Regions from separate parts of the Homo sapiens genome. Here region 2 is linked to region 1. The links come from fine-mapping of genetic effects on gene expression. A gene starts in region 1. The other region holds a variant in brackets. All regions are shown on one strand. Distances are from middle to middle. Region 1 holds the start of UST (uronyl 2-sulfotransferase). Region 2 has its middle 150 kb from the start of UST.

Region 1 (11,772 bases):
TTGTGGTCAAGTCTTCTTTCCAAAAAACAAAAAAAAAGCAGCAACTCCTAATAATTCTAGCAGCTACAATCCATCAAATAAGATGCGTTTTCATTGTCCATCATGGACACCCACCAGTACAGCTGCAGGTCAAGCTACTGTTTTTGCTCCTTCAGTCTCCCTCTGAGGAAGCAAAAGATACTATTTATTTTGGGACTCAAAAACCTTGACCACTTTCTTTCCAGTTTCTCCAAAACAAAACTAACCACTGTCTTAAGCCTGGATTGATGACAGGGAATTTGAAGAAAGACAGTATTTAGATAATCCACATTTATATGTGTTCTTAGACAATTCATACTAAGACTAGTCTACATTAAAAAATAGTTTACAAGGCAGATTGCTTTTCACCATTCATGCTATTTGTTTACAGAACGGATTACCATAGCTGAATTCCATTTTCTATCCTTTCTCTAATATAGTGCCACTGTGTCCCCAACCAACCCCACAATATAAACTTGTAGCTATGAACAAGAATATCATTTTTTCTATGTCAACAATTTCTATTGATAACGTCATATTTTATGCATTCATTTCCTAGATTACTGTTTGGAGCCTAAAGTATTATATTTATACCATGTGTGAAATGCAGAAGAAAAATAAAATTTGGCTTTTTAGGTTCAAAGAAACTATTTTGTAACAGATATGGACCTCTATTTTCACATTTTCCTTTAAATGCACTTAAACTTAGAGAATTTCAAATTCAATAACATGACATACTTTTCATTTTTTGACTCTAAATTGCCAGGCTCATATATAATATACGTAAAGATTGGCAATTCTGAGAACTAAAGTTCTATATCTCCATTTAAAGTGGTATAAATTAAAAATGGAAAGGAAAGCATATCAGCTGGGAATGAGTCCAACAAGTTTAGCTCCCATAAAGTCTAAATCACATATCCAAGGCTGGATGATAGATCATTAGAGTTTGTCGGTTGTACAAGATCAGTAGTAAGCCATCTGGCTTATTCTGTTTATATCAATGAGTCTTATTCCAAGTTTTTGATATTTCCACAGCTCATAAGTAATAAGGCTACTGGCAGCAAGGCTGCATCATAACCTAATTTCTGGGGGAGATTTTATTTGATTTTTTGTTTGTTTTCCATAGCAAAACAAAGTTTGAATGCCATTTCAAAAAAAAAAAATTCACTGAATTGGAAAGACCATGGTCTCCAAGCTTAAGTGTAGCATTTGCTATATATTTCTATTTACCCCAATGTATGTTTGTGCTCCCCCTCCACCCAATCTCAGGGTGGGAAATCAAGATAACAGTTATCCTTGCATGATTTTCCTCCCCATCACTTCCTTTACTCTTTTCAAATGTGTTACAGCAGAACATTCTCTAAGTAGAACATACTCTGCCTTTCCCCAAATTGACTAGGAAGAAGGACTGTTCACCACTGTCTCCTATGGGGAAGAGAAAGCATCATCAGTGGCTCTGTTCTCGTCCTTCCCCACACTATGCTTTCCGGTTGCCCCACGTCAGCCTACTCCTCACGTCACACCTCTCCTAACCTTGGAAGGTCTAAAGCCAGCTGGGGTGGGTGCCGTTGGCTGGTCCTTCCCTCAAAACAGTGGGGCTTAAGTAGCAAACAAGATGCATTTTTAAAAGTTGAAATTAAAAACTGAAACCATGTACATTTTTAAATCACATTTTTAAATACTTTAAAGTATTAAAGTACCTTTAAATACTTTATAAATCTACCCACCCCGCCTCACATTCCTCCTTTCTCTCAAATACATGGGAAGCCTCCAGAAAGCAATACTTTGTTGTTGCTCAACAACAATGGTTCTCAAATTCTCTGCGTTGGAATCACCTAGAGGACTTGCTGACGCACAGATTGCTGGGCCCTGTGCCCAGACTTCAGCAGCTTTGGGATAAGACCTTAGCATGTACATTTGTGACAAATTCCCAGGTGAGGCTGATGCGGCAGGTCCAAGGACCCACATTGGGAACCACTAGCCTAGACATAGCACAACTGCTAAAGAAAGAGAAAACGCCCGGAAGATGCGAGTCCGACCAACATTACTCCCAGTTGTTGTCCAGCTCAGGGAGGGTCTAGTTCCCTAAATAAATGGAGGCCACATAGTGGGGATTAATACGGAAAGGTAGAGTTAAAGCAAACCAGCTGCTTGAATTATTTCCCTTCTCTGCTGGCTCCTCAAGATACTCAGAGTACAAGTATCAAGAAAAGGAAAGTGGAATTATGGATGTAAATGTGATGGATCGTTTTTAGCCAGTCCCGATCTTTAGATTCCCATTTGCATCTTGGCTGTCCTTCCATTTTCTCCCTTAAACTGCCCATAGTGCTATGCAATGGGTATTGCAATCAGACAGACATGGGTTGAAGTCCTGCCTCGCTTGCTATGTGTCCTTCATAACTCTTTGCCCTCATTTTTTCCATACAGAAAATGGAAATAACAATAGAACCTACCGACAGTGTTGCTGTGCAGATTGAATGTCACCCTGTGTATGCACTGACTGGCACATGCGTGATAAATACTAGCTTTTACTATGAATGCTACTGTCTCTTGGCTTTCCTATGAGAATATTCAGTACGTTAAATATCACACTACCTGTTTGATACAACAGGTTGGGTCATTAATTCAACCAATATTTATTGAGTGGCCATTGTGTGTCAGACATAGAATATTGTATAAGTATACTGAAATAATACTCTGTAAAGAAAAGTGTTTGATATAAACATATTTTGATTTGGAAAATTTTTACTTTACATGAACTTACATTTACGAAAAATACTTGCTGCCAAAATTGGCTGAGGAAATTGAGAGGATGTGTTTACTAACCACAAGTTTTGTTTTGACAGACACTAAAATAAAAGAATGGAGGAAAACAGGGGAAAGTAATTCTGCAGACACAGTGGCCTTATATTATTAAAGGTATATTTTAGACCATCCAAAATACCACAAGCCCACTTTTCCCAAAAATCATTATATTTACGTAACAGGGAACAAATTTGGCCAAGGGTATTCTATTTTCAGTTCACAATGATGTCATTTTGAACCTATCACATCAGTCAGAAATATAATGATCAGCTAGTAACAGGAGCAGCATTCAATCTTTCAGTTCTTCCTAGTTTCCTGAGCAGAAGCTGAGAATTCACCCTTCTACCAACTGACCACCCAAATTTATTAGGCCTCATTGTTTGGAAATATAAAGTGAAAATGTTAATGCAATATATGTTGAAATGTCTTGATTTTATCCTCAGTAGTACCTTTGCTCCTTCCTCCTCCCAGAATTTCCCTTCCTCAAGAAAGGTGTCAGAACCCCAAAACTTTAGGAGCTGGGTGGAGGTTTCATTGACAGTCAGGTGTGGCTTCTAATTCTGCCATGAAACACCAGGCCTATGAAGTCTGAGTACCCTACACGAGGCCAGGTGCTTTGAGGACAATGAGCACAGATGACTTCCATCCTGGTCCATTACACTTTTCCCTACACCCCTGGCCTCCATCTATTACTTAAAAAGAACTTCCACAAGAATTCACTGTCAGATTTAATGGAGAAAGACCCTGAGCCTCAACGCTTGCCTCCCAATGCCTGTTAACAGGGATTGCTGCTGGTGATGAAAATACTGTTAACTTTTGTGGCACTAGCAGGTGTCAGAGAGTGGAGGAAGCTATGAGACTCCACAATACAGAACTTATGAAAAGAAGAGGTTTGATTCCCTAATAAAGGATATATTGCCCCAAATCCTCTATGAAACCAAATGCTATGGAAATCTACTTGGGCCAACTTTTCCTGTAATCTGTAGTTCCCCAAAGTTTATAAAGAAATAAAAGTGTAACTTTTAAAATATGAGGTCTTGTACAAGGTAAAGAATATTATTTTATCCACATCTACATTTCCAAATGCCCTAACACATTTGTAACTTGGCTGATGTGGTTTTGTTTTTGTTTTGCTTTGTTTTGTTTGTTTGTTTTGGGTTTTTTTTTTTTCCTTTTCTTTTCTCTTTTCTCCAAACGGTCTACTATCTAGACCTGTGGCTTCTGCCACGAAGTGACGTTTGGGGTAACTGTGGCAGCCTCCAGCTGGCCCGGGTCATTTGGCCCATTTTCTTTCCAGCACTTCGGTGGCTCTGCTTCCCCGCACTCGCTCTCATCGTGCAGATGCTCAGGCTTATCACTTCGGATGCTTGCAAGAAGCTGGAGCTCTCCCAGCCTTCACCCCCGCACGACCTCTTCTGGCCACAGACTTGGGAGGGATCTGCATCCTCCCTTGGCTCGAACGCGAGTGCCAGCATCGTCCTTGCGACCTGGGCTTGCGCTCGCCTGTCCCTGGCACCCCTGGCTCCCGCAGCCGAGACGAGGGAGCTGCGGGGTCACGCCTTCTCGCTGGAGCGGCTCTTTCCCTCCCGTCAAACCCCTTCCTTACTTCTGCTAAAGACAGGCGGCCTCTCTCCTAATAAACCACACACACACACACACACACACACACACACACACACACACACACACACACACAAGTTTTGACTTGAGCTTGAGACGCACACAGCGCCGAGGATCCTCGGGTTACTGGGGGCGACACTGCTGGCCAGGCTGACCAGCGCCCTCGGGCATCCCCAAACCCCTGGATGCAACCCGTTCCCCGCGCCAGGCTAGCTGCGGGCGGCGGGGTGGGCAGCGGCAGCCAAGGGACAAGCCAGCCCGGGGACAGCGCGGAGCCACTAGGGCCGGCGGGCAGGCGGGGGATCTGCGGGACAGAATTCTCAGAGCGGACGGTGGCAAAGGGCTAAACCCACCCACACTCCCCGGGGCGCGGGACGGGACTGAACTGCGGTCACTAACAATGCAACGAAGAGGACCTTCCCTTCCCTTCGCCACTCCCCGCGCCGCCAGGCCTGAAGATACACACACTCCGGCACACCCCACACACCCATCCACTCCGCCCCAGTCCGGATCCGGGTGGCGGAGGTGGGGCGGGGGGAAGGTGAGCGGTGCCTCGCCCCGGGGTACCTGCCGGCAGCGCAACCCAGCGGCGCCCCCGCCTCGGTGAGGACAGTCGGACGCGCGGGAGGAAGAAGGCGCTCCCGACCGCGGCACAGATGCTCACGGGCTTAGCACCTGGAGAGACCCGGGGCGGCGGCGGCGCGCGGTGGCAGCGCGAGAAGTCCCCGCCGCGACCCTCTCCCCGCCGCACAACTTTGCGCTGTCGGCGCCGCCCTAGCGCCTGCCCAGCTTCCTTACCCAAGTACTGCCGCAGGTCGAGCAGGAAGCGAGGGGGTCCCCCGCTGAGCTGATAGAGGAGGGAGCCCAGGCAGAAGACCAGCAGGGTGGCCATGCAGAAGCCGTAGTCCCGGAGGGAGAAGCGCAGGAAAGGCAGCAGGGGCACCCGACGCTTCCAGCTGCCCAGGCCCGGAGGGGCGCCCCCCATAGGGGCCCCATGGGGCCAGGGATCCGCGCCGCCGCCGGGATGCTGCTGCTTCTTCTTCATCGCCTGCTCCGCTGCCTCCCACAGCCTGCCCGTGCCAGGAAAAGGTCACCCATCCGCCGCGAGGAGGAGAGCCCGGCTGGCCGGCTGCACATGGGGAGGGCCGCGCGGAGGGCAGCCGGGTGGGGGCGGGGAGGGGCCGAAGTTGCCGGGCTCAGGAGACTTTCTTCGGCATGGTCCCCGCCGCCGCGGCCCGAGCGGCCGAGGTGTCCGGCCCCGGTTCGGGGCGCTGCCCGTGACGGGGCGCCGCGCCCGTCCGGCGCCCGCTAGCGTCCCCACGCCCCGCGCCCCGCCGCGCCTCGGGCTCGCTTGCGGCCGCCGGGGCTCGCCTCCAGCGCCAGCGTGGACCCCCCGGCTTTGTGTCTGTAGGTCTCGGCGTGTTTTGTCCCGGTTCAGGCTTCTCTAAAAAACGGCAGGGAGGAACAGGAGGCGGACACCATCCCCTCGCTCCACCTCCTTGACAGGGGTTTTCCTCCTTCTCCTCCCCTTTCTCCCTCCGGCGCTCCGCAGCACTCTCCTCCCTCTCCCCTCCCTCTCCGCTCGGGTCTCGGGATTTCGCTCGGGTGTCACGTTACTGCTTCTGCTGGGGGCGGAGGGGGGGAGGCGGCGATTATTCGCAACAAGGAAGAAAGTTTCTGGGTGTTTTCTTTTTTTTTCCTTCCCCCGTTCTTTACAATCTGGATGCGGTTCCTGCGCCACCAGCGACCTCTTGGGGGCCCCGCTGACTTCCCTCTTGTAAACAGTCACCGGCAGGAAGAAGCACGACTGACTTTACTATTTACATTTTTTTCAGTTCAGAAAGTTGATTCTCCTTATATACCCCGTGCGAGCTGCTTACCCAAGGCTGATAAAAGGTACTAGAATACAGGCTCAAGACTTTGCTGAAATGGGAAAAGAGCAAGCGGTGCGAGTTATGGTCAAACACGCCCCAGAGGGCCAGGCGCAGCGCCTGAACTCCCGGGTAGGGTAGCCGAAGAGGACGCTCTGTTCTTGCTTTTCCTGGTCCTACAACTGCTCCACCTCGCAGTGCCCAGAGAGGCAAGTGGGGGGTGCATAGCGGACTCTAGGAGGTCATTGCCCTGCAGACATGAAGGGGAAAGAGCCCAGTCCGCCTATACGCTGATTTCATTGCTGCCTCTCTTCCCTCCACGGGAAAGCCTCTGGACCTGAAAGAACCTCCTGGGGCAGAAAAGGCTCAATCCTAGACATAGATCCTCTGATGGGGTGGTTGATCCACGGAAGGGCTGCTCTGATCAGCCACACTTTAAGTAAGAATACTATATCACTATTTATAGAAGCTGTAGCACCTGAGGGCTGTGTGACTCACCCGAGGTCCCAAAGCTAGTAGTAGGAGTTGGGTTGGGAGTTGCACTCAAATCTATTTGACCCTCAGACCCACTATACTAACCACTGCACAGCAGTACTTCCCAGCCAGAGCCCTTTTCCTTCACGTCCCATAGGAGGATGAGATTTAATTCATTTAGTTCAGGCCACATTGAGAAATGGAAACCTCAGTTTCTGGTGCCTATCATTTCTGGCTCCCTACTCATTTGTATATTCCAGTAATGAACAATTGGATTTAAGAAGGAACCAGGAGCCAAGAACCTCTATGATTCTAAGACTAGGCTCCTGAAAACCTTCATCAAGTTAGGCATCTGAAGAATATTCTGTGGAAAATTACAAAATATTATCCTAGACAAAGAACTTACTCGTTAAGAATATGTCTTAACCTCAGCTACTCAGGAGGCTGAGGCAGGAGAATCGTGTGAACCCGGGAGGCGGAGGTTGCAGTGAGTCGAGATCGCGCCATTGCACTCCAGCCTGGGCGACAGTGCGAGACACCGTCTCAAAAAAAAAAAAAAAGAAAGAAAAGAAAAGAAAGAAAGAAAGAATGAATATGTCTTAACCATGTTCATATATGAATGTCTCTGGTTCATGATTTGAAACATATATCATGAGCTAGAGAGATGTGTAGATGAGGTGACAGGTGCTGCACACACACAGAGACACACGTACACACACACAACTCTACTGTCCAATTTTACATTGTCCTAGCCCACTTTCTAAGGGATGAGAAGGCTGTTTTGGGGCCCCAAGAGAAAAGAAAATATTTTGTTCTGTGACAGAAAACCCTGAATAGAGTGTTAATCATTTGCTTTACATTTATCTCATGAATCAGGGTTTTATTTGGATTAATATGCACATTTTAGAAATGTGACTTCCCCTAAGAGAATTGAGTAGATCAGTCATTGCCCATTAATGTGAATTACTTTAATCAGTACAATGAGTAGCCCAGAACAGACTCCCAATTAATAACGTTTGAGCTTAAGAAGAGGGACTAGGAGACAGAAGGAGCAAAGCAGTGTTCATAATGTTTCAGGGACCGCCTTCCACAAACTGGACCTGTATCTGAGGCCTGGCCCTGTAATCTGAACACTCGCTGGATATAAAATAGTGTGCAAGACCCTCTGTGTTCACAAGTCCCACCCCCAGGAAGTTCAGAGACTTTTCTCACAGCATGCTGTGGGAAATACCCCAATTTTTTCTCCTAAGGAAAGGAATCTGAGGAACAGGGAGATGGAGCAGGAAGAAAGGAAACAAACATTTGAGAAAATAAGTAAATATGAGAATAAATGTTGTTTTAAAAAACGATGAAAAAGTTGCAAGGAAAGTACAAGGGGGCAAAGTCCAGCTTAGAAGAAACAAGCTATGACATGAACTATTTCAGAGAGAATAAACAGGTCAATCTTTAAAAGATTGTGTTAATAGACTCGCCGCCTAAAAAAACTCACAGAAGAAAAAGAAGAGATATCAAGATACAAAGAAGTTTCACATGGAAAAAAATGCTTTATATTTTCACCCAACAAAAACTTAGTTGTTTGGGTAAAACTTTGTTCTTTGAAGTCCCATAAATATCCCTTCAGAAAAAAAAATTAAATTTAAAGTACTTAGACTAATTAATGGTATCTTTATTCAAAGCAGATAACAAATCTAATTAGAGGAAGTTGTGAACGAATTTTATTATTAGTCTTATAATGAAATATACTTTATTCAGCACCTTGACCTCCATTCAATATCTTTAGCTTCTCAATTCCTTCTCTCTCCAGTGACTCATTTGACCTTGTCCTCACTGATGACTAATTGCATCTCCGAAATCTCCTTTTCCCCCTTCACAACCTTCTATCCTTCTGTTTGGCTTCTTTGGAGCCCACCCTGTTTTTCGGTCTTTTCAAGAACTGTCAAGTCTGTGTTCATCCATCTCATGTGTTTACTTCTTTCTTTATCCAGTTTTGATTCCTGATCCATCATTCTGATCTCCTTCTTGCAAACACCCCTTCATTCCCCCTGTTTCTCTCATCTTATATCCTACAGTGCTTGTCTGGTGAAACCCAGGCTCAGTTAAACCCAACCATGCAACTGGACTGGATTGCAGAAAAACACACAGCGCTGGTAAGTGGCTTTTCTTTAAATTAGAGAGCACAGATTTCAGACAGATGCACACCCATGGCTGCCCAGCAATCCCACTCACTAAAAGGACTATTCCATAGTGTCTTTCTCTTCAAACCTCCCATCTCCACCCTCTGCTTTCTTCCCTTCAGTCTCAGGGGATGACCTGGATCAGCCTTTGTTGAGAAAATAGAAGCAGTAGGATGAGAGCTCACTCATTTCCTACCAATCTGTGCCCCGTGCTCTTGGCCTCCCTCCCTGTTTCATCGTGTTCCTGCTTCTATCAAGGCCATGCTGCCACGTGTGCCCTAGACTGCCGTTCCCACCAACCCCAGTCCCACACCCAAGCCTGCCCCCTCCATAGCCTTCTGCATCTCTGTAAATCATTACACTCTCAAGTCACTTGGGCCCCAAACCAGAAGTCTTAGTTTTTCTATTAATAGTTCATTCATTCTTGTATCTAAACCATCTGCAAATCCTATAGGATTCAAAAAAAAGTCCAGTATCTGACATCCTTTGCCACCCCCCCGGGCCAAACCACTGTCTTCTCTCACCTGGATTGTTGCAAAGGCTACTTATATTCATCATGTTTCAGTTTAGCTACATAGAGCTGGAAAAAAAAAACCGCAAATTTAAAAACCAGTGGCTTAAACAGAAAAGAACTTTATTTTTTTTTCTCTCTCTCTTTTTTTTTCCTTTTTGAAACAGAGTCTCCCTCTTTTGCCCAGGCTGGAGTTCAGCCACGCAATCTCAGCTCGCTGCAACCTCCTTCTCCGGGGTTCAAGTGATTCTCCTGCCTCAGCCTCCCAAGTAGCTGGGATTACAAGCGTGTACTACCACACCTGGCTAATTTTTGTATTTTTAGTAGAGACGGGGTTTCATCAAGTTGGCCAGGCTGGTCTCGAACTCCTGACCTCAAATGATCCACCCACCTCGGCCTCCCAAAGTGCTAGGATTACAGGCATGAGCTACCATGCCTGGCCCATTTCTCTCTCATGTGAAACGAGTCCAGAAATAGGCCGTCCAGATTTGGTGTGGTATTTCTATGCTATCCTCAGGGACCCACCTGAGCTTTCTGTTCCACCATCCTCAGCATGTGGCTTCCATTTTAAAGGCCGTCTTATGCAATGTAATCAGCATTTCAAAAAGGTATGAAATCTTCATACCTCTTTGATATGTTCATTGCAGCATTGTGCACAATAGCCAAGATATGGAATCAACCTAAGTGTCCATCAATAGATGAATGGATAATACTATTCAGCCTCAAGAAGGAAATCTTGTCATTTGCAATAACACAGGTTAATCTGGAGGATATTATGTTAAAGGAAATAAGCCAGACACAGAAAGACAAATACTACATGATCTCACTTATATGTGAAATCTAAAAAAGGCCATCTCATTGAAGCAGAGAGAGGAATTACAGTTAACAGGGTTTAAGGAGGGAAGGGTAGGGATTGAGGAGATGTTGGTCAAAGGATACAAAATTTCAGCTAGGCAGCAGGAATAAATTCAAGAGTTCTGTAACGTAGTGACTATAGTTAATAACATATCGTATCGTATACTTGAAAAGTGTTAAGAGAATAGATTTTAAGTGTTCTTACCACAAATAAATGATAAGAATGCAGAAGGGGAGAAAAACAAAACAAAACAAAAAGATCTCCTTATGGTTGCAGATGGCTGCTAGAGTTCCAGCTATTATGTCTATGTTCCAGGTTGGCAGCAGAAGGAAGCAAAAGAGCAAAGAACTCCCAACTGAGTAGGCTCTTTTTAAGCAGTGCTCCAAAGTGTGCTATAAATCTACCTTCTTATAGGTCATTGGCCAGAAATTAATCACATGACTCTGTCTAATTGTAAGGGACAGGGGACAGAGAGTATCTAGGAAATCTAGACTTTAGCTGGGTGCGTTGCTGCCACAAATAAGAATCAGGGTTCTATTGCTAAAGAAAGAAAGGGCAGATGGCTACTATGTGGCAATCAGCAATTTCTGTTGTTCCTCCTGACTGGTCTGCCTGCTCCCAGCCTTTCACCCCATATTCCATTCTCCTCAGAGCAGCCAAAATAGCCATTGCTGCTCAAAACTTGCCAGTGGCTTCCAATGCACTCAGAGTAAAAGGCAGCATCCTAGAGTAGCCTCTGAGGTCTTACTCAATCTGGCTCCATTGTTTCTCTGACCTCATCTCTTATCACTTTTCCTGCTCACCCTTACCTATCCTCATTCATCAGACAAGACAAAAACTTGCTCCTCTATTAGGACCTTTGCTTTCACACTTCCCTCTGCCTAGAAAGTTCTTTTCCACACCTCTGCATGGCTTGACTTTTGACTTCCTCCCAGTTTTGCTCAATGTTGCCTTATCAGAGGAGTTTTCTGGGACTACTCTCTATGTAATGCACGTGTGCATCCACATTCCTTATTCTCTTGACCTCTTTAGCTTTCTCCATGGAATGTACCATAATCTGAAATGTTAGTATTTTGTATGTGTTGTATATTTCTCCCCCCTAGAAAACAAGCATCTTGAAGGCTATGATTTTGTCCCATTTGTTTATTGTTTTATCTCCAATACCTAGAATAGTGCTCACAGGTAGTGATCACTCAAGAAATATTTGTTGAATAAAAAGATGAGTTTTTTATAGGAAGAGTCTGATGTTCGGTGAGTCAAATCTCATTGATTCCGTGGTCGGCCAAGTGCGGATGAGACGTGGAGGTCCTAGAAAGTAGGCCTCCGTGCTGCGAGAACATTCAGATAATCATCAAAAGAATTGTTTGCAGTTGAAGATGTATTCACTGAAAGAAAGGGTGAATGAATGAATGAGGCCCTCACCACCTCCGTGACCCCTAATTA
Region 2 (11,772 bases), 150 kb after region 1:
AATACGGAATTAAACTAAGCATAGCTGAATACTCTGAGAGGTATTTACAAATCAATACTGGAGCCTTATCTGAAATCCTACCAATTTATTTTTCATTGTAGGATGTAGTTTCAAGGTCCAAAAATGTATCTCTGGAGAATATTACATTTTGGAGCCTGCTAAAAGTTTTTCTATAAATATTCCACCAAATGAAAGAAAACAAGCCATCAGCAATCACTCTGACAGATTTATCCAGCGGCTCAGAATGCTGGACTCTAGTCCCAACCCTTGACAAGTTATGAAGGCAGCAGAGTCATCATTCAAATGGATTTAAGTGCCCATTGTGTGTAAAGACCTTCCTTACCTCTCAAGGCCAACAAGCTAAGATGGATAACTGGAGTCTTTTAGCCTTAAAGGGTGTTTGGCATAGCAAAATACAAACATAGAAAAGATAGCTTCACTCCAACTCCTGGCTGAGCTTATCCCAACAGTGTTAGTGAGGCTTTGGAGAACTAGAAGTAATCTGCAGGCTTAAATTCGTTTTTCAGTCTCTTCCCACTTACTATTCGTGTGACCATGGGAAGGCTTACTTAACCCCTTTGAGTCTCATGGAGTTGTTGAAAGAACGAAATGACATAGATTATATGACATGCTTAGCACAGTGCCTGGGATATAAAATGTGTTCCAAAAGTGTTAGCTGAAATTATTAATATTAAGTAAGAGCCAATATGAGAGAGAGCAATAATATTAAAGGTGGGAGTTTAGTTCACTGTGTATTTATTGTAGGGAATCAGAATATGCCACCCCAAAATATGCCATTGGCATAAGGATTATTTTGAGCTGAAGACACTTGAAAAACAGCAGATGCAGGAAGAGCTTTCTGACCTTCCCCTTTCTATCTAAAAGTAGGACATAAAATTTCCCATGAGAAAGGTGCCCTTCCTGTACCAGGAAGAGCAGAATAACTCTTAGTAATCAGATTCTTATCAGCCCAGAGATGAAATCTACATAACAAACCTTAGGAAAACAACTTGTCTTTCCCCTTATATTTACCTTCCCACCCCTGAAAGCCTAAGCCCCTTTTCCTTGTCACTTCTCTACAACTTTATCATTCTTTGTTAACATGCTCTATAAGCTCCAAGTTCTAATCGCCCCTTTGAGAGACCAATCACCAGATTTCTCTTGAATGTATTCATGCTGCATGTGTGAATAAACTGTGTTTTTCTCTTATTCATCTGTCTTTTTTCAGTTTAATTTCCAGTATCCCAGCCATAGAAGCTAAGTGAGGAAAGGAAGAGTTTTTTTAATCTCCCCTACATATGTGTGTATGTGATAACTCTGTCTATTACTAGATGAGGGTTAGTGGGCATGGGAGTGTAATTAAGTACTCTATTTTTACTTTTTTTTTTCCTTTTCTTTCTGTGGCCCTTTGTATTAACTTTTTACTAATGAAATAGTAACCTTTACTCTCCTTCTTTCCACTAGGCACTTCCTTGCATTGCTGGTTTATCTAATTATGTTTGCTTAGAAGTTCTGGAGACTGAATCTTCAGACAATCCAGGTGCCTATGGAATTCTCCTTGACTAGGAGATTACTTTAAGGCTGCAGCTAATTTACAACCCTGTCAAACCCAAGATGGTGCCAGCCCATTCACCAGATGAGACAATAACTCAGGATAAGTCATTGGAACAAGTCACATAGTCCTGCACTGCATGCCCTCCATACCAAATTTCTCTTTCTTAAACCTTAGCATTTTGCCTGGGAATTTCCAAGTAGTTTTGTTAAGGCGTGTTAAAGCAAACTAAATAGGGCCTGAGAAGGACTCCATACTTGTATATTTGAGTCCTTGTGGATGAACTGTCACCTAGCTTAATAAGCAGACAAGACTGAAAACCTAATTTAGGAGTATGTGCCTGTAACAATAGCTGAGTCTTGGCCCATCCCAACAGCCATACTTCAATCACTCGTAGACTGCTAAGTGTTCAAATTGTGTTCAAATAAGGCAAACATCAACCTGTAACCAATCCAGCTGTTCTATACATCACTTCCGATTTTTATACATCACTTCCCTTTCTTTGTCTCTAAATTTGTTCCTACCATGAGGCATCCCTGGAGTCTCTCTAAACCTGCTGTGATTCTGGGGGCTGCCTGACTCATGAATTGTTCATTGCTCAATTAAACTCCTTTAAATTTAATTCAGCTGAAGTTTTTCTTTTAACAGACAGGAGACTGAACCATTTCCACACTGCTGGCTTCAGAAAATAAAGTCGCTTTCCTTCCACAGCACCCCATCCTTGTTATGGTTTTGCAGGTGGCAAACAGCCAAACCTGTGTTCAGTTACAAGAGGAACTGTGAAATCTGGGAGCTCCTCTGGCAGAAGAGGGTTGAGCATCCAATGCTGTGTTGTGTTGAGATCTAGTCTTGCTCAAGTGAGGTTTCTCATCTGAACCACAGAATACAGAAAGTGATCCCAGTGACTATCTCCTGATTTTTCCAAGGATGTTGCATTCTAGTATCATTCTAGAGACCTAGGAAGGAAGTTAATTTGTGACATACAATGAATGCCTTAGGACACTGGGGCTTAATGCAGGTCTTGGACTTGATGTAATCACATGGAAAGTGGTTCAATGGCCTTCAGGAGTCATTTTCAAACATAGCATTGTAAAATTCTGTGCATCTGTTAAAAAAGATGAGGTGAGCTTGTACATAACATGGAAGAATATCCATGATTCATTGATAAATGCAAAAGGTAAAGTCTTGAATAACAAGCATAGAATACCCCATTTTATTTTTTAAAAATCCTACATGCAAATACTTAAATAAAAAACAAATCCTAGAAGATTCTATATCAAATTGGGGGAAAGATTGCCCCAATCTCTAAAATAAAATAAAATTACTTAAAATAAAATTTAAGTAAAAGTAGTAGGTGAGCAAAGATAAACTAGCACATTTTATTTGTATTGTTCAAATTTATTCAATGAGCATCTGCTTCTTTTTAAAATTAGGAATAGTTTAATTCCCAGTTCAGATATGGTTTAAAAAAATTAATAATGTGAAAAGTGAAGGTAACTTTAACAATGCAAGTTGTGAGTGCAGGGGAGTAGGGTAGTAAGAGACAGAAGTGGTGGAAATATGTTTATAAGTGATTGCAGATGTGTGGGGCAGCGCTGGGTAATTGGAGCATTTACAGGCTGAAATATTAGGGGCTGGCAAGGCTCCAAGGAGAGGCTGGGACTGGACGGGTCATCTGGGAGGATGAGCCGAGTGCCTTCGAAGGTTGCCCAGCATTGCACACACAGAGCACCCATCTGCCTCTGTAGCTCTGTCCTCTGGAGGAGGTGCCACAACCAAGGTCTCCTGCCTCCCAAATCAGAGCTTATCTCACATTGGTGACTGTATCCAAGTTCCCCAAATACCAGTCATTCTCATAGTATCTTTATACTATCCTCTAATTTACTTATTTCTTTTGGCTCCATAAATTTGGCTCTGTTTTGACTTATAATATTCATGAAATAATGAGTTTCAGTGTTGATTATATTTTCTACTTCCCAGTACGGTCATGCGTCACTTAGTAATGGGGATACATTCTCAGAAATGCATCGTTGGGCGATTTCATTCTCATGCAATTTCCTCATCATGTGAACATCATAGAGTGTACTTAAGTGTACTTATGCAAACCTAGAAGGTAGAACCTAGTACACACCTAGCCTATTGCTCCATCCACGGTCATGTAGGCAGTCCGTCATTGACCAAAACATCATATAGGACACATGACTGTTTTGAATAATTTTTAAGAAGCTTTAGTCTGTATCTCATCAAAAAGCATCAAAGCATATTTTGGGAAATAACAAATTACATTATATATTAGATAATTATTGAGATCATGCTATAAAGTAGAGGAAGGCAAGTGTATTAAGTATTTAGAAAGAAAGTATCCATATTTAAAATGCTGCTGATAATGCTGGAGAAATGATTATTAATTGGCAGGCTGAGTACAGGATACTTTTCATGTGTATGAATGAAAGTTCAATCAGGGAAGAGGAATGACAATGAGGATGATGGAATAGGACTTTCTTACAGGGATTAAACCTTACACAAGTGTGGGAGGAGCTGGAAGTAAAGGTCTGACATGAGAGCTGGAGGTTCTGGGAAAATGCCCTATGCAGCCCTCCTGAAGCACTGGGACAGATGGGCAAGTCAGCACTTGCAGGGATTCCGGGAAGCCAGCAGATCCAGATGCTGGAGAGGAAGGACAGTGGAGAGCTGATGGGGAAGTCCAGGCAAGATGTTGCTCCTACACCTGGTGGTGGACCACAGTCGATGCTGGTCAGCAGGGCCAGCTGGCAGGAGGAGGGGCTGAATGCAGAGCAGGGAAGCATGATGACCACTGGCAGTAACTGGCATCTCAGCATCTGTTTTTACTGAGCATGCTTTGGCCAACTTTCTTTTGGCCAATTCTAACTCAGAACCATACTGGGAAGGGAATTCTGTGAAACATAATTCTAACCAGCCGAAGTTAACACAGTATAAAGCCACTGTAGCATAAGATAAAGTTAAGAAACAGGAATAAGATGGGAACTACTCTCCTCAAGCAAGAATAATGGCCAGAGGTGTAACCGTCACTTCATGGTTAAAACAATTAACGCAGATATGAACTCTCCCGCTAAGGTGAATCAGGCTTATTTGGACCTTTCTGTTGGGCCTACATGGGTTTTCTAAAGGCCACAAATCCAGGCATCAATAGGCCTGGCCACAATACAAGCAGCTGAGAGCCAATACTATCCACCACTTCTCTGCATGCCTCTGCAAGTTTGTAACTGTGCAGATGCACGAGTAACAGTTAAGGTCACCTAGTCATTCATTCAGCGTGGATTCATGGAGCATCGATGTGCCAAGCACTGTTCCAGAACCTGCAGCTATGGTAGTGAACGCAGTAGACCCAGTTTCTGCTCCATGTCTGTGAAGGGGATGGGAGATAGGCAATTGTCGATATTTGTCCATACTCTATGTGGGATGGAGGTAAGAGCCATAAATACAAAGAAAGGCTCATGTTGACTTTTTATTATTTGTGCAAATTTATGGGGTACATGTGAAATTTTGTTACATGTATATAATGTATAGTGATCAAATTAGGGTGTCCATCTCCTGGGTGCAATACATTTTTGTTTAACTATAGTCACCCTATTCTGCTATCAAACATTGAATTTATTCCTCCTACGTAACTGTATGTTGGCAGGGCACAATTTTAGAGAGGGATCGGTGATGCTGTTTTAGACACGGCAAGCAAGGAAGGCCTTTTTGAGGAGGAAGTTGATGAAGAATGGAGCTCCGTGGCTCTCTGGGAGGAAGGTCACAGGAACAGATGTGCAAAGGCTCAGACAGTGGAAAATACTTCACATGCTCGAGGAACCCCAGACAAGAGTGACTGGAGCAGCAAGGGTCAGGAGGAGACGGAGAGGATATGAGGTCAGAGACCATGGTTAAGACTTAAAATTTCATCCCAGTGGGAGTGAAAGTCCCCTAAGGGTTTCAGCAGCCACGTGGCCTCCTCTGAATGCAAGGGAAATGGAGCCACTCCTGCCCAGTCAGAGTTAACTGGAGTTTTATGTATGGCTTACACTTGTACCGCTAAGTAGAGGTACAGAGGGAAAATTTGGGCGATAATTTAACTTTTGACTGGATGAAGGCACGGGGGTGTCAGAACGGCTCATTTTTTTCCCTAGATAATTTAGTTTCACAACCATGCCTTGTAACTGGCTGAGGGCCTTATCTGTCAGAAACTTAGCCATCCGGCTCTACAAATGAAATCTCATGAGCTCTCACTCCTCATCTGGAGCCTGGACCCCTCAATGGGGCCCCAGGCAGCAGGGCAACAGCATCATGTCAGCATCATGTCAGCGTCCTGCCACCCCTCTCCATGCAGCAGAAGCAGACGGGAGAAAGGGCGGCGACTCCTGTAGAGAGGGGGCTTAACCCGTGAGCGTGAGAGGCAGTGGTGGAAGTCATTTGCTAAGTCAGAAGAGGCCCAAACATAGGGAAAAGGTCGTGTGAGTATAATTTCAACTTCCACTTCCATTTCACGGCCACATGCCACTTCTCGTAGTCATAACAATGTTAAAACTGGAACAAAATAATCGTTTAGGGAACTTCAAGTCCTATAAATGATCAAACTGTGCTGAGCAGTGCTAGGATTCCACAGAGGTGACTCAGGGACACTCTGGAGAATGTCACTGGATGTGAGGAGAAGCCC[G/A]TGGGTGGACAGAGGGTCTCCTCCCTTCCAAGCCCTACCCTCTGCTTCCATCTATGCTGGATTGGCTATTTATCTAAGATTTTGCTTCAAGGAAGAGTTTTGGCGCCAAAAAGTAAACAACAACAACAATAACAACCAAAAAAAACAGATTCTGAGATTAATTAGGACTAACTATGTGCCAGGCACTCCACTGAATTTTTTTTTACAAACATTATCTCATTAATCCTCCAATAGCCCTATGAAGTAGATATTATAGTCCTATTAATGAGAAAATTAAGACTTAGTGGAGTTAAGTAAATTTTTCATGTCTCACAGTACTGCAAAGCCAAGATTTGAACCCAGGCCAACTCATCTGACACCTCAACCTCAACTCCTAACTTTTATGCCATCCTGAAAAAAGAAAACCTATCAACCAAGGTTATTCTCATTACCATTCAAGGAAATGTCTTAAAATGTTTAGAATAGCCATTGTGTTCATCTGCTTGGGCTGCCAGAACAAAGTATCACAGACTGCATGTCTTAAACAACAGAAATTTATTTTCTCACAGTTGTAGAGGCTAAGAAGTCCAAGATCAAGGTGCTGGCAGATTTCGTGTCTGGTGAGGACTCCCCTCCTGGATTGCAGATGGCACCTTCTCACAGTGTCCTTTCATGACCTTCCTTGGTGCACACGTGTGCAGAGAGAGAATGCTGATATATTTTCCTCTTCTTAAAAGAGCACCAGGCCAGGCGTGGTGGCTCACGCCTGTAATCCCAGCACTTTGGGAGGCCAATGCGGGAGGATCAAGAGGTCAGGAGATGGAGACCATCCTGGCTAACATGGTGAAACCCTGTCTCTACAAAAAATATAAAAAATTAGCCGGGTGTGGTGGCACGTGCCTGTAGTCCCAGCTACTCGGGAGTCTGAGGCAGGAGAATCACTTGAGCCTGGGAGGCAGAGGTTGCAGTGAGCTGAGATCGCACCATTGCACTCCAGCCTGGGCAACAGAGCGAGACTCCATCTCAAAAAAAAAATTTAAAAAAAGGTACCAGACCTATCAGATTAGGGACCCATATGTGTGACCTCAGTTAATTTTATTACCTTCTCATAGTTGCTATCTCCAAGTATTGTCACATTGAGGATTAAGATTTCAACATAAGAATTTTGAGGATACACAAATATTCAGTCCTTAACAGCCATAAAGGCTAATATAATACTGACACTTATAGAGCTTTCACTATTTAATATATCCTTATGTAGTGCTTACTCTAAGCAGAGCCCTATTCTAAGTGTGAAAATATTGACTCATTTAGTACTTCCAATAGCCCCAGGAGGTAGTTGCTATCAATATTTTCAGATAAGGAAAAGACTGAGGCACAGAAAAAATGATTAATTTGTTCCCTAGTGGTGAGCAGTGATGTAAACCTGTCAAATACTTCACACACACACACACACAAAAAGTTTAATCATCCCTCAGCCTCCCTGGGGGATTGGTTCCACAACTCTGCAGATACCAAAATCCCTGGATGCTCAAGTCCCTGATACAAAATGGCATAGTATTTGCATATAACCTGTGCACATCCTTCTGTATACTTTAAATCATCTCTAGATTACTTATAATACTTAACACAGGCCAGGTGCAATGGCTCACACCTGTAATCCTAACACATTGGGAGGCTGAGGTGGGAAGATGGCCTGAGCCCCAGAGTTTGAGATGGCAGTAAGCTATGATTGTGCTACTGCACTCCAGCCTGGGCAACATAGTGAGACCCCAACTCTAAAAAAAATTTAAATACCTAATATAATGTAAATGTTGTGTAAATAGTTGTTACTGTATATTGTTTCCTATTTGTATTATTTTTTGTTGTTATATTGTTATTTTTGTTGTTGTTGTTTCAAATATTTTCAAGTCAGCATTGGTTGGATCCAAGGATGTGGAGCCCACAGATTTGGAGGGCTGACTATAACTGAGGGATCAGGCTCCTTTCCCACCCATGGCTCCACCTTCTTCAATGGATGCTTCCCATGTCACCATGGAAGGGAAAATAACGTGAGAGGTTCTATGCGTCAGCTCTGGCTTCCTCTCACATTCCATTGGCTAGAACTCAGTCATGTGACCACACCTACCCGTGAGAGAGGCTGGGAAATGCAATCCAGTTGTGCGTCCATGACAAAAAGGAAAACGTTAGGTGAAAAACTCGCAATATCTTCTACTATAAAGACACAATAAGTAATATAAAATATTCTCAATTTATTTGGAGAAAATAACCCAATTTCTGTATTTGATTTTTTTAAGTTGCATATCCAGGAGGGCTAAATGGCAATAGATAATTTTTTTTTTTAAGCAAATGACATTTTCAGAATAGAGTAGCCACATGTCCCAAGACAGAATCCACATCATTTACTGCCTGTGCCAGTGCCATGGCTAGGCAATCTGTGAAAGTCTCCCCTTTGTTTTTCTTCTTTTTCCTGTGTGCACCCCTATTCTTTCCCTCTGAACCTTATTTCCTCCTCCCCACCAGTTTCATTTTCACTTTTGTGTGGTTCCATTCTCACCTGTTTTGGGCATGAATGGACAGGGGCACCACAGACATCACCAGCCCCCCTCACTTTGGTGGCCCTTGAGCTGAAGGAGGAAAAAAAGCTGTTTAGTGGAGCTGAGAGGGGGCTGGGCACAGATAGTGCCTGGTTTGTCCCAGCCCCGACACTTTCCAGCTCTAGTTGACCCAGGACAACTTTGCTGCTCATTTTTCCCACTGGTTAAGGTCCAGGTGTATACAGGAATACGTTGGAGATATTGTGGGTCCTGTTCAAACCACTGCAATAAAGTGAATGTCACAAAAATGCACGTCACAAAAATTTTTTTGTTTTCCCAGTATATCTAAAAGTTATGTTTACACTATACCACAGTTTATTGTGTGCAAAATCATTATGTCTAAGAAAACAATTCACATACCTTAATTTAAAAATGCTTGATTGCTAAAAAATGCTAACAATCATCTGAGCCTTTGACACATTGTAAGCTTTGCCAGTGGAGGGTCTTGCCACAGTGTTGATGGTGGTAATTGTTGCTGAAGTTTGGGTGGCTGTGAGGCAATTTCTTAAAGTAAGACAACAATGGAAATTGAGGCATCGATGGACTCTCTCTTCCTTTTATGAAAGATTTCTTTGTAACGTGAGATGCCATTTGATAGCGTTTTACCAATAGTAGAATTTCTTCCAAAATTGGAGTAAATCCTCTCAAGCCCTGCCACTTCTTCATAAACTAAGTTGACATAGTATTCTAAATCCTTCATTGTCATTTCAACAATGTTCACAGCATCTTCACCAGAAGTAGATTCCATCTCAAGAAACAACTTTCTTTGCTCCCCATAAGAGGCAATTCCTTATTCATTCAAGTTTGATCATGAGATTGCAGCAATTCAGTCCCATCTTCAGGTTCCACTTCTGATTCTAGTTCTCTTGCTGTTTCTACCATATCTGCAGTGACTTCCTCCACTGAAGTCTTGAGACCCTCAAAGGTACCTATGAGGGTTGGAATCAACTTCTTTCAAACTCCTGCTAATGTCAGTATTTTGACTTCTCATAAACCACGAATGTTCTTAATTGCACCTAGAATGAGAAATACTTTCTATGAGGTTCAATTTGCTTTGCCCAAATCCATCACAGAAATTACTATTTATGGCAGCTGTAAGCCTTATAAAATGTGTTTCTTAAATGATAAGAGTTGAAAGTCGAAATTACTCCTTGATCCATGGGCTGAAGAATGAATGTTGTATTCACAGGCATGAAAACAACATTTATTTCCTTGCACATCTCTATCAGAACTGTTGTGTGACTAGCTGCATTGTCAATGAGTGGTAATATTTTGAAAGACATCTGTTTTTCTGAGTAGTAGGTCTTAACAGTGGGCTTAAAATATTCAGTAAATCATGCTATAAACAGATATGCTGTCATCCAGATCCTGTTGTTTCTTTATATAGCACAGGTGGAGTAGATTTAGCATAATTCTTAAGGGCCCTAGGATTTTCAGAATGCTCAATGAACATTGGTTTCAACTTCAAGTCACCAGCTGCATTAGACCCTAACGAGAGTCAGCCTGTCCTTCAGTGCTTTGAAGCCAGGCATTCGCTTCTCCTCCTATGAAACTCCTGGATGCCATCTTCTTCCAACAGAAGGCTGTTTAATCTACATAGAAAATCTGTGGTTTAGCCGGGCACGGTGGCTCACGCCTGTAATCCCAGCACTTTGGGAGGCCGAGGCAGGAGGATCACGAGGTCAGGAGATCAAGACCATCCTGGCTAACATGGTGAAACCCCTTCTCTACTAAAAATACAAAAAATTAGCTGTGCGTGGTGGCGGGTGCTTGTAGTCCCAGCTACTCAGGAGGCTGAGGCAGGAGAACGGCGTGAACCCGGGAGGTGGAGCTCGCAGTGAGCCGAGATCGCGCCACTGCACTCCAGCCTGTGAGACAGCGAGACTCCATCTCAAAAAAAAAAAAAAGAAAATCTGTGGTTTAGTGTAACCACTTTCATCAATGATCTTAGCTGTCTCTCCTGGATAACTTGATAACTTGCTGCAGCTTCTACATCAGCATTTACTGCTTTACTTTCCACTTTTATGTAATGGAAATGGCATCTTTCCTTAAACCTCATGAACCAATCTCTGCTAGCTTCAAACTTTTCTTCTTCAGCTTTATTACCTCTCTCAGCCTTCATAGAATTGAAGAGTTAGGGCCCTGTTCTGGATTAGGCTTTGGCTTAAGAAAATCTTGGGGCTTGTTTGATCTTCTATCCAAACCACACAAACTCTCCATGTCAGCAATAAGACTGCTTTACTTTCTTAACATTTGTGTGTTCACTGGAGTTGCACTTATAATTTCCTTCAGGAACTTTTCCTTTGCATTCACAACTTGGCTAACTGATGCAAAAAGCCTAGCTTTCAGCCTATCTCAGATTTTGACATGCCTTCCTCACTAAGCTTAATCATTCCTAGCTTTTGATTTAAGGGTGAGACTTGTAACTCTTTCTTTCACTTGAACACGTTAAAGACATTGTAGGGTTCTGAATTGGCCTAATTTCAATATTATTGTATCAGGGAATAGGGAAACCCAGCAAAAGAGATATAAGGGGGAACAGCAGATTGGTGGAGCAGTCGGAACACATACAACAGTTATTGAAGTTTGCCCTCTTATCTGAGCATGGTTGGTGGTACCTCAAAACAATTGCAATTGAAACATCAAAGATCACTGACCACAGATTATCATAATAGCTATAAAAATAGTTCAAAAGTTTGAAATATGGAAGAATTCAGTGGTCTACAGTCAGAGCTCTGATCTCACCCTGGGACAGGGCCTCCTGTGGGGAGGGACAGCCACCATCTTTGTGGTTCAGTCAACTCAGTGGTTCCAGCCTGCCAGCTTTGGAAAGTCCAAATGGTCCAGATAAGAAAAGTCTCCCAGTGCAGCACAGCCACTTTGCCAGATTGTGGCCAGACTGCTTCTTTAGGCAGGACCCAGATCCATTCCTCCTCACTGGGCAGGACCTCGCAGCCAGAGCTTCA

The links. PIP is the estimated chance that this variant, and not a neighbour inherited with it, causes the effect.
Region 2: its variant is fine-mapped to the expression of UST in visceral fat (GTEx, PIP above 0.99). The same link has a PIP of 0.9 or more in esophagus muscle, fibroblasts, subcutaneous fat and transverse colon.

The regions. Positions count from the first base shown.
Region 1 is chr6:148,741,147-148,752,918 of GRCh38, reverse strand. UST (uronyl 2-sulfotransferase) reads right to left here and starts at 5,889. Exons shown (of 8, transcript NM_005715.3): 1 at 5,242-5,889. The coding sequence starts at 5,488. LOC124901425 (a long non-coding RNA gene) reads left to right here and starts at 7,320. Exons shown (of 2, transcript XR_007059806.1): 1 at 7,320-8,935. RefSeq lists enhancers at 3,751-4,250, 4,251-4,752, 6,061-6,140, 6,201-6,260 and silencers at 4,931-5,100, 5,401-5,490.
Region 2 is chr6:148,587,617-148,599,388 of GRCh38, reverse strand. No RefSeq gene overlaps it. Among named protein-coding and RNA genes, the nearest start is that of UST, 150 kb to the left of the region's middle. The variant G/A (reference allele first, on the strand shown) is at 6,231.